Linked DNA regions of Homo sapiens. The protein of the gene in region 1 purifies or fractionates together with the protein of each later gene. This does not show direct contact. Each region holds a gene or a part of one and is shown in the gene's direction. Other genes may lie near its edges. The genes, in order: MTHFSD, MACROH2A2 and ZNF346.

What was found.
Region 2: the proteins of MTHFSD (region 1) and MACROH2A2 purify together in Homo sapiens (co-immunoprecipitation; one large-scale study listed by IntAct). This does not show direct contact.
Region 3: the proteins of MTHFSD (region 1) and ZNF346 purify together in Homo sapiens (co-immunoprecipitation; one large-scale study listed by IntAct). This does not show direct contact.

The regions. Positions count from the first base shown.
Region 1 is NC_000016.10:86,548,508-86,552,235, reverse strand, and holds part of MTHFSD (methenyltetrahydrofolate synthase domain-containing protein), read left to right. Parts: coding exon of another isoform or gene 1-57; intron 58-89; coding exon 90-203; exon of another isoform or gene 204-263; intron 264-3,658; coding exon 3,659-3,728.
Region 2 is NC_000010.11:70,059,170-70,062,897, forward strand, and holds part of MACROH2A2 (core histone macro-H2A.2), read left to right. Parts: intron 1-3,728. UniProt on the Homo sapiens protein: Variant histone H2A which replaces conventional H2A in a subset of nucleosomes where it represses transcription. Nucleosomes wrap and compact DNA into chromatin, limiting DNA accessibility to the cellular machineries which require DNA as a template.
Region 3 is NC_000005.10:177,064,196-177,067,695, forward strand, and holds part of ZNF346 (zinc finger protein 346), read left to right. Parts: intron 1-316; coding exon 317-404; coding exon of another isoform or gene 405-562; 3' UTR 563-905; coding exon of another isoform or gene 906-931; 3' UTR 932-3,500.

The DNA.
Region 1 (3,728 bases):
ACCATTAAAGTAAATCCTGATGCCCCCCAGAAAAGTGCTCGCTTCTTCGTCCTTGAAGTAAGTGCAACTCTGTCTATTTGCCTAACTAGGGGTCTTATCTGGCTTGCCAAAACATCAAAGACCTAGACGTTTTTGCCAGAACACAGGAAGTTAAAGTGGACCCTGATAAACCACTGGAAGGCGTTCGGCTGCTGGTGCTGCAGGTAATTCCACTTCCCTGAGCCGAGCCGAGACCTGGCCGCCAAGGGGGACACCTTTTCCAGGTAGCTGGTCAGTGCACACGTCTGTCTTGCATTTAGAAAGTCGGTGCTTCCGATTCCCTCCAATACAGAAAGTGCCCTTGGTGGTGATTTTTCCAAGAATAGTTCAGAAGCCCTTCAGCTGTTTAGCAATTCAGTCAATCAGGAGTCCCGAATGCTTCTAAATTCAGAGATAAAGGATGTTCAAAACAATGGCTTCCAGGCCCAGTTGGCACAGGAGAGGGAACCCAGGCAGAACCTGTGGTGTTCCAGAATTGAGGAGCTGGAGCTGAAATAGATGACACCACTTTGCCATTTGAAATGAGCATGCTAACAAGCTTGCTGAACACAGAATCATTTGCTTCTGGATGACAGACGGTCACTTGTCATGTTCTGATACTATAAAGACCACGGTTAAGAACTGGAAAGGTTTCTTCTCAACACTGCTGAACTTTTTAAATTCAGGCATGCTTTTGTAATTTTTATTTTTTAACTTCCTAACCAAACAAACACAAAAACTATGGCGTTGAAGCATTCTCAGTTTTGATGTGCTTCATCAGAGGAGGAAGATTACAAGGAAGATTTAGTTCTTTTTGCCACAGTTGTGGTATTATGATGCTTTGAAACATGATAAATCACGAGTAAGAAGTCTGATGTACCCTCAAAAGGTATCGGTTAGAGCACTTGTTCCTCAACTGAAAACATACAGGCCCCTTTTCAAGGAAAACCAGAAAACTCCCCCAGGGTTGATTTAAATTAGTTTATTATAAACTAATTCAATATGATAAACATAAAACTTGGTATAAATTTTAATGCAGATAGCTTTTATGTAACTATAAAACCAAAATAAGCATATAAGTTAAATACAAACAAAACTATAAAATCAGTAACATTCAAATGGCCCCATTAATTTAACGTAATGGTTGATATGGTTTTGCTGGAGCAAATCGCAGCTGATAACATGAGTATAGTACTGGCCATCTCAGGGCAGAATCGTTGTCATTCTGCCTTAACGCTGCCATGCGTTGTGTGCTGACTCCATTCTCCCACCCAAGTTGCCAAGTCAGACTCCTGAGAAGCCCTGGTGAGAGGGGCACTTTCCACACCTCTTGCCGGAGCTGAGAGGAGGGGTCCAGGCTCGTGTGGGAGATCATTTTGTCTGCTGATGGTGGTTCAGCCCCAAGAGAGACTTCCATGTAGGCTCTTCCAGAAGCATAGCTTCCTGTCAGCCTTATTTTCCCAGTTAATGAATCATTTTAATAAGCTAGAAGTAGTAATAGCAGCAGTAGCAAGGAAGGACGGCAGTCGGCAGTCACTGCATTCGAGGCGCAGTTCTGTCTAAATGTTTTCCCTGTATTATGTGGTTTGGTTCTCTACTACTATGGGAGCCATCTCTGCTCCTCTGTGACACTTGAAACCAGAGACAGAGAGGCTCCACCTCAGGTTACCGCACATCAGTCTCAGTACAGCCAGGATTCTGACTCAGCCACCTGACTCCAGAGCCAGTCCTTGCAAGTGTGAAGTTCAGGGTGTTCTCAGCTGTCAGCCCCTCAGAGCAAAAATCAGAAACCTTGACCGTGTGGTCAGCCTTAGCCAAGATGGCCTGGAAGAGGGGTGCAGCCCTGAGCAAATCCCTGTTGCTTCATGCCATCATTTATTCAGGCTGAAGAAACAACTGCATAAGTAACTGAGCTATCTCCCAGGCTGCGTGCTGGGCATAGGATGTAGTGGTGCAAGACTACACACATGTGGTCCCTGAGTTCTGGTGCTTTCAGGGTCCTCAGTGGTTTTTGGAAACTTTAAGGGACTTAAGGATCAGCTGGGATGCAGGTAAAGATGCAAGTTCCTGAGCCCCAGCTGCATGTGGGCAGGCAATGGTGACATGCACAGCCTCAGGCCACACCTACAGGCACAGCAGCCAGTGTCTGACTGGACAGTCCGCAGTGCTGGGGGCACGCACAACCTCAAGCCACAGCTACAGGCACAGTGGCCAGTGTCTGACCGGACAGTCCGCAGTGCTGGGGGCATGCACAACCTCAAGCCACAGCTACAGGCACAGTGGCCAGTGTCTGACCGGACAGTCCGCAGTGCCGGGGGCATGCACAGCTTCCCAGGCCCAACCCCAGACCTGTGAGTCTCTAAAGTGGCATCAGATTCTGTTCAATCAGTACTCCGAGGGTGCTCCAAGTACACAGGCTTAAGCCCCACTGGCTTAGGTGCCACTTGCCAGCTCTGGCCACATGGTGGTATCACTCAAGGAGGTTTGAAGACTGTTGGCCATGCCAGGTTCCAGTCTCTGGAGTGAGGTCTAGACCTCGGTAATTCTTAAAGCTTGCTGGTGATTCTAATGCACACTAAAGGCTGAGATCCACTGAGCCAGAGGATGAGCAGCTTCTAGAAAAGAGAGAGTGATCCCCATATGTGGGGCACAGGACTCCAACACTGCCCATGAGGGAGCCACACTCCACCACTCCCAGAAAAGCAGCAGGCCGCAGTCACAGCTGCCTGTGTTGAAGTACTTCACTCTTGTGGTTGACAAGCCTTTGTTGAAATAGGCCAAACAGATGTCATGGGTCTTTTATTGGTCTTGGGTTGTCATCTCCTGCTCAAAAACTAAAATATACTATTATTTACATGAAAGATTTCACAGATCTTATGATTGCCTTGTGGCTTACCCTTGCATAATCTACAGAGACATCTCAGCCAGTGGTTTTCAAACTTTCGTGTGCATCAGAGTCACTGGAAGGCTCATCGAAGCTCCCCACCCCCAGAGGGGCTGATTCATTTCTAACAGGTGCCAGGAGCGCTGATGCGCTGGCCCAGGGCCCTCACTTTGAGAAGCCCTGTTCTAGAGGTTCTCACAATAGGCATTTGAGAACTAAGTAGAAGTCAAGGGCTATTGGCACGTATCAGTGTATTGATTATCATGATTACTGATCTCTTTGACTGTGATTTGCTGAACAGTCAAACTAGATAGAAATGTTTGAGTAACTAAGGTAGCTATGCCATGCCAGTTTCTAATGACAGCATTATTGTAACTGTGTCGCACTTGGTGCTGAGAGCAGAGGGGGCACAGGAAAGTTGAGGTTGGGATTTTGTCAGAACTGACCTTAGTTTGGATTTCTGTTGTCAGTTTTTACCTGTAACAATTTTGAATGGCAAGTGAAATCAAATTAGCAAGTTTAGTAAACCCTCTGGCTCTTCAGGGTAAGGAGGTGCCGAGTGGTGATTCTAAGAAAAATCGACCCCACACATTATTTAATTAGGTTTTCAAATAAGTAATTTCCTTGGCACACACCAAAAAAAACCATGCGGATAATAGTAATTTGCCTCTTCTCCTGAAATGGTAAAAATACATATAAGAAAGTCCTATGGAATAATTTGATTTTGTAATTTATTGATTGTCTTTTCTTTAAAAGAGCAAAAAAACATTGTTGGTTCCAACACCACGACTGAGAACGGGATTGTTTAATAAGATCACACCACCCC
Region 2 (3,728 bases), on another chromosome or scaffold:
GTCTGTTTTGAGCATCTTATAGGTTGGAGAGGACCTCAGAGGTGAGCTGGTGCAATGGTTCTCAGGTGGGGCTCCACAGAACCCAGTGCTCCTTGGAGGCCCAAGGCAGGAAAGGTGGCGACCAAGCTGTTGAAGTTCCCAGGCACTTGCCCACTCCAGCCAGGACAGCTCCCCTTGCATCTGTTTTATATATTAGAGTATAATTTCTTTTTTTTTTTTTTGAGACAGAGTCTCACTCTGTCACCCAGGCTGGAGTGCAGTGGCGTGGTCTTGGCTCACTGCAACCTCTGCCTCCTAGGTTCATGATTTTCCTGCCTCAACCTCCTAAGTAGCTGGGATTACAGACGTGCGCCACCACACCTGGCTAATTTTTGTGTTTTTAGTAGAGACAGAGTTTCACCATGTTGGCCAGGCTGGTCTCGAACTCCTGACCTCAAGTGATCCTCCCGCCTCGGCCTCCCAAAGTGTTGGGATTACAGGCGTGAGCCACCGCGCCTGGCCTCCTACAAATTTTTGTTCAAGCAAAAGGGGAACCCTACGAGGTCTACTGATTTGCCTACAGGCCACAGCTAGTCACAGCCAAACTGGAGGCTCCCTCCCCGTGGTCCACCGCACCTTCCATTCTACCACCTTGATGCCCCCTTGAACTTTGGCAGGTTTCACCCACAGAGGGGATGGTGTGGTGTGGCCAGTGGCTGGTTACACCCACAGAGAGGATGGTGTGGTGTGGTGTGGCCAGTGGTAGCCCTTAGCTGAAGCAGCTGATACAATGTGCCGGGGCCCAGGAGCTACAGGGGACCCACACGTGCATAACCAGGGAGCAACACTGCCTGTCAAGAGCACAGAACATAGAACTGCAGCAAAAGACCCAAGCCACTTGTCCCCACAGTGCAGCCACTGCCTGAGGACTGACAGCAGGGCCAGGTGCGGTGGTTCACGACTATAATCCCAGCAGTTTGGGAGGCTGAGGTGGGCGGATCACTTGAGGTCAGGAGTTGGAGACCAGTCTGGCCCACATGCTGAAAACCCATCTCTACTAAAAACACAAAAATTAGGGGGGCACAGTGGTGGGCGCCTATAATTCCAGCTATTTGGGAGGCTGAGGCAGGAGAATCTCCTGAACCAGGGAGGCAGAAGTTGCAGTGAGCCAAGATTGCACCACTGCACTCCAGCCTGGGCGACAGAGCCAGACTCTCTTAAAAAAAAAAGAAAGAAAAAGAAAAAAGGACAGACAGCAAGAAAAAATGGGTAGGGAGGTGCAGGCAGAGAAAGGGATGGAGGAAGAGGGGTTCCAGAGCAGTCTGTTGTTCTAGCTTTGAGAGCAGACAACTGGCCCCACTGATGAACTCAGTTGCTCAGCAAACATGGATGTCTCTGGAAGCCCCTGGTGGATCAGGCACACCAAGGCATACAGTCCACCTGCTGTCTGGTACTGGAACACTCACCCTAGCCCCTAACGGTGCGCCTGCACACCTCTACTCCCATTTGGGAATCTCATCTTGGCTCAGACAAAGCCAGTGCCCTGCTCAGAGAAGTAAAGAATGTGCTGCTTATAACAATAAACTGCATTACTAATTTGGATCTGTTAGATTTGCAGAAAACAAGATAGTTTAACCACTGTTATACTTGATAAAGAACTTATTTAAATTAAAAGAAAATCTTGGTCAAGCTGGTCTCAGTGGCTCATGCCTGTAATCTCAGCACTTTGGGAGGCTAAGTTGGGAGGACTATTTGAACTTAGGATGTCAAGGCCGCAGTGAGCTGATTGGGCCACTGCACTCCAGCCTGGGTGACAGAGACTCTGTCTAAAAAAAAAAAAAAGAAAAAAGAAATATTGGTTTAAAGAAACCAGACTACTTTGTCTTTTTATGAAGGCCATCAGCATGTTAAATAAAGTTTATCCTTTCTCCCCAAAAGCAATTCATTCAATAAGGGCATGTGCTAAGGGGTTTTTCTTTCTTTCCTCTCCTCCCTTCTGAGATCCCAGTATAATTTTAAATATTGTTTATGGAAATCCCACTGCTCCTATTTGTCAAGCCTCAAAGAACAAAAAGACAAGAAGAGACCAGGCTGGACCCAGTGAGGGTGTTTTTGTTTTGTTTTCTGTGGATGAATAGATTCAGGAAGGCAAACTGGTTCATTTTCTGGTTGGCTTTCTTTAGGAATGCATTGCTAACTCAGATTCAAAGAAAACTAAAATTATTTTCATTCATTTCTCATCCAAGTACCACAGGTGGCCAAACGTATTTATATTAGAAAATAGCATAAGGCCAATAATAAAGAAACAAGCTACATTATAGATCAACAACTTCTGCATTTCTCTTTTTTAAAATAACCACAGCTCAGGTTCAACAGAGACAACAAAACATGTTAAAATGTCTTAGTATCCTGCAGTAGCAGCAGATATCCTAAATCTACCCCTTAAATGCCCCTACCCCTTGTCCCCAGCTCCTCTAGAGTGACCACACATGCTCTGCCTCTGAATGACAAAGAATGTGCCGGCAGTTGAACTTCCCACTACACGACGTGACTTGAAATACTTTTTTAAAAGGGAATGATTTGTTATCCAATAGTATAATTTAAATAAATTGGATTAATGCTTGGTTCTAACATTCATGGTTGGTTAATTTGGTTAATTTGATCTGCGTGCCATTTTGATGAAATTGCATTTGATATAGCCCTTTACGTTATAAATTGTTAATGTGCTGTAACATATATGACGATAAAATTATTGACTATTCTCATTCACTTAAAGGTGGCCTTGAAAGAAAATGGTTTGGAAAGTATTATACTATAATGATTTGCCCTTGGAGTTCATAAATGGAAGTGTAATAGAGCCAGTGATTTAGCTCTTATTACTGAAAATGATTTTTACAGCTACAAAATAATGCTAACAAACTATTATTATTTTAATACAGTACTTAGGGTAACACACCAAAATACAGTCAAACTCTATTAGGTGGGAAGCTAAGATTTTTTTCATACCCTTTAAAATATATTTCAATGTATAGTTAATATATTTATATTGAATCCCCTCATTTCCTACCTAGTTTTGTTTTATTTCATCTCAATGTATTCTCCCAAAGGATTATTCTGAACTGACAAAGATGCTTCATTGCAGTGTCTCCATCACTTTTCATAATATTTGCAATATAAAATATTCTGAAGCACAATACCACAGATTAGGGAAATATCATAGAGGATAAAAATGAATAAATTGAATAAATTTCAGCAATTTTAAAACAGTACATGAGTCCATTAGGGATGACACTGTGAATTTCATGTTCATGAAAACAATGTTTAAAGTTTTTTTTAAATTTCAATTCCATCATTAAAAGCTCTAAGATCTCTTATTTCTAGATTTAAAATAATGTATGATGAAAGCATTTTGATTTGCATACTTCTGAAGAGAATGATCTCGAAAGAGTGCTTTAAAAATAAGCCGTCTCGTGAGTCTAGATCCTTTGTCAAGGTGATTCATCGGTGTGACCGAACCCCACCTGTGACACCCTGGCCTATAATTATAGCTCCCAATCCTCAAATTACTGACTGCTGTCTCTTTTTCAAAGCCTCGTTGTAGAAGCTTGACTGTAGAAAAAAATGGTCATTTAAGTCAGGATGCTGTTGTATGTTCTCACCCATAAGTGGAAGCTAAACTGTAAGGGTACAAAGGCATCAGAATGACATAATAGACTTTGGGTACTCAGGGGAAAGGTGGGAAGAGGGTG
Region 3 (3,500 bases), on another chromosome or scaffold:
GTATAGTGAAAAGGCATTGGCTACAGTCCTGAACCTACCACCTAAAAACATACTTCGGGCCAGCCACTTAAGCTTTCTGAACTTTAGTTTCCTTGTATGTAAAATGAGGGTGCTGTTTCTCACCTTGCAGAATTGCCATGAGGATGGAATGATGGAAGCTAAGCATCCAGCATTCTGCCAGCCCACAGTGGACCTCAGTGAAGGAAAGGTGTCCTGTCTATTACTCCAAGGCCCTGGAAGGGCAGTGCTATCATTGCAGTAGGCCAATACAGCTGCCACACACTGACCCTCTTCCTTTGTTCCTTCTCAAATACAGGTCACCAAAAACAGTGGCATCATCCCTGGGCCAGATTCCAATGCAAAGGCAACCCATTCAGAAAGACTCAACCACCTTGGAAGACTAGAGGTGATTCTGCCCAGCATCCCATATTGGGCCAGCCATGAGCCAGCTTCCCGTGACTGCTCAGCCCTTGGCTCCCTCTTGCTCGTTGTTCTCACCAGGAAAGTACACGGGCCTGAGGCAGGATTGGGCCACAGACAGCCTCTCATTGGTCCGGGCTAATTCACTCCTGCTGCTCCCCTTTGGCAGGGGTCCTGTAGGTCATGACAGGGGAGGCAAGGGTATTGAGAGACTCGGGGTCTCGCGGGGTGGTAGTTTGGAGGGTGGCTTTCCCCATTTCCCAACCCCTCTGGGCCTTAGGTGCTGAGGCCCCTGCCACCTGTCTTTCCTCTAAAGGTCAGTTTTGGGCCAGTTCTTGCAACTAAAGAGCAGAGATCTCTCTGGGCCCTAGACATTTCCAGCAAAACCTGGAACTTTCATGCCAAACCTGGGGCAGGGCAGGAAACAGAGGAAATGGCTGCAACATGGGAGCTTGGAGCTAATACGACACTCTGCCTTCCCCCAGAAGGTGCAGGCTTTCCTGAGTCTTAGACCAGATATGGCCAGTTGCGCAGGTTTCTGCCAACTGTGAAGTATCCTCCTGGAGCAGTGACACAATCTTGGCGGAGCATTGCTACCCCCGCTGCCCCCTCCACAGTTCCTGAATGGTGCTAAGGATCTGCAGCAGTTGGCAACGAGCTGGGGCTGGGGGCGGCCTCCATGTCCACTGAGATCATAGGACACTCCAATGGGGATGGGACCTTTCCCCTCCTCCATCAGAGGTGCTCTGACCCTAGGTTACACGGGAAAGTGCCCCACATGCAAGTCTCCCTGAGGGTTCTGCCCCTAAAGGCAGACTGCCTCATGCCCGCTAGCTGTGAGGTTCATTGCTACCCTCGGCCCTACTAGCCCTCTCTTCCCCCTTGTGCAGCGGACCACTTGCCCAGTTTGCTGTGGTGCTAGCCTTCCCCATCATCCACCGGGTGATTTCTGGGTCCCAGGGAAAGAAAGAGAGAGCTGATGCAGGTTTCTACAGTGAGGAACAGGCGTTTCCCAGGCCCCACACCCAGATTTCTCTATCTTTGCTGTGTTTTATGGCCTGGGACTGAGTCCACACGGATAGATTTTTCCTTGTAACCTTGAGACGAGAATTCCAAGGAGTGTCACCATCAGAGGCTTCTCTTCATTGTGTCAAAGAAGCCCCTAGCTGCTCTCGTGGCCTCCTTCCCCCACTCCCTATCCCTTCACCTGTGAAATGCCTTTGCTTTGCATATTGTGTGTGGATGTGTGTGTGTGTGTGTGTGTGTTTGTGTGTATGTGTGTGCTTCTGTGTGTGCCTAATGCTCTGTCTCTTGGTCACTGAAGCATCCAAATAAAGAATTTCCCTCATGGGCCAGACTACAACTTAACAGACCTAGGGTTTTGAGCCATATTGCCATTGGATCTAGTATGTCTGTCTTGACCCCTCACCCCCACCCCATTCAGACCTCAGTAGTCCCCAGTAGTCACTTTAGGAGTTGGGACAGAGTCGAGCACCCTGTGAAAGTCTCCCTTGAGTTCAGGTGCCCTGAACTCAGTACAGCCTCATCTTCTCATCCACCACCTTCTCCTGCTTCTCCTGTCACATAGGGCCTCATGAAGGTCTTTAAAGGGTTTAAGCTGGGGATCTGCTTTATGTTTGAGAGAACTGTTCTGGCTGTTATGTAAAGGAGTGCAGGGAGGGGCAGGAAAGGAGACAAGGAGGCCAGTATGGACACTGTGTCCAGTATGGCTTTCCAGGCTAATCACTTAGGGCAGAGACCCAGCCTTATTCATCTCTACTTCCTGATGTCCATAGTGGTGTGTCATGAATTTTTATTGAATGAACAAATGAGGTGTATGAGGAGAGATGGTTTTCTCCTGCTCAGCTCTTACACAGTGATAGGTTTGTTCCATGGGACTTATCATAGGCCTGGTGATTCTTGAAAGAGCATTTTTCATGACTCAAAAATGAGCTGAGAAGGAGTGTTATGGCCAGGTGCGGCGTCATGCACCTATAGTCCCAGCTGCTCAGGAGGCTAAGGCAGAAAGACCATTCAAGCCCAGGAGTTCCAGCCTGAAGTATGCTGTGATCATGCCTGTGAATAACCACTGCACTCCAGCCAGGGCAACATAACAAGACTCTATCTAAAAAAAAAAAAAAATTATAAAAATAAATTTGAAGGCTGGGCGCCGTGGCTCACGCCTGTAATCCAAGCACTTTGAGAGGCCAAGGCAGGTGGATAACCTGAGGTCAGAAGTTCGAGACCAGCCTGGCCAACATGATGGCAAAACCCCGTCCCTATAAAAAATACGAAAATCAGCTGCGCCTGGTGGCACACATCTGTAGTCCCAGCTACTTGGGAGGCTGAGGCAAGAGAATTGCTTGAACCCGGGAGGCGGAGGGTCGCATTGAGCCAAGATCGTGCCACTGCACTCCAGCCTAGGTGACAGAGTGAGACTCCTGTCTCAAAATAAATAAATAATAAATTTTAAAAGAAGGTAGCCAGGTGTGGTGGTGCATTCCTGTAGTCCTGGCTACCTGGAAGGGTGAGGCAGGAGGATCGCTTTAACCATGAGTTCAAGGCAGCAGTGAGCTATGATTATGCCACTGTACTCCAGCCTGGACAACAGAGCAAGACCCTGTCTCTAAAAATAATAATTTTTAAAATTTAAAAAAAGAAAGGAATGTTATGGCCTCAAGAGCTCTTTGTCCATCCTTTACTGTAGACAGCCAGATTTGAGGAAGGGGCCCAGGCAGCCTCAGCTCCCATTCAGTGCCACTCAGCCCCTGCTCCTGGTCAGCTGTGAAAGGCTCTACACAGCCCCAAGGGAGGTTCTCAGCTTCCCATGATCAGACTGCCTCAGCAATTCCCCAGAGTCCTTCTAAGCCACCTAGTATGTCAGATTCAGCCCCATCTACCAAGCAAGGAAATGAAGGGCAGGGGGTGAGTGGGCTATCATACCGTGAGCCTCCGGCCTGCAAGACCACTTTGTAGTCCCTACCAGCTGTGTGGCCAGCCCTGTTGGTAAAGGGACCTAGAGATGAACACTTTCTTGCCCTTAGGGGTTCACACACAGTCAAAGATCATGATGACAATGA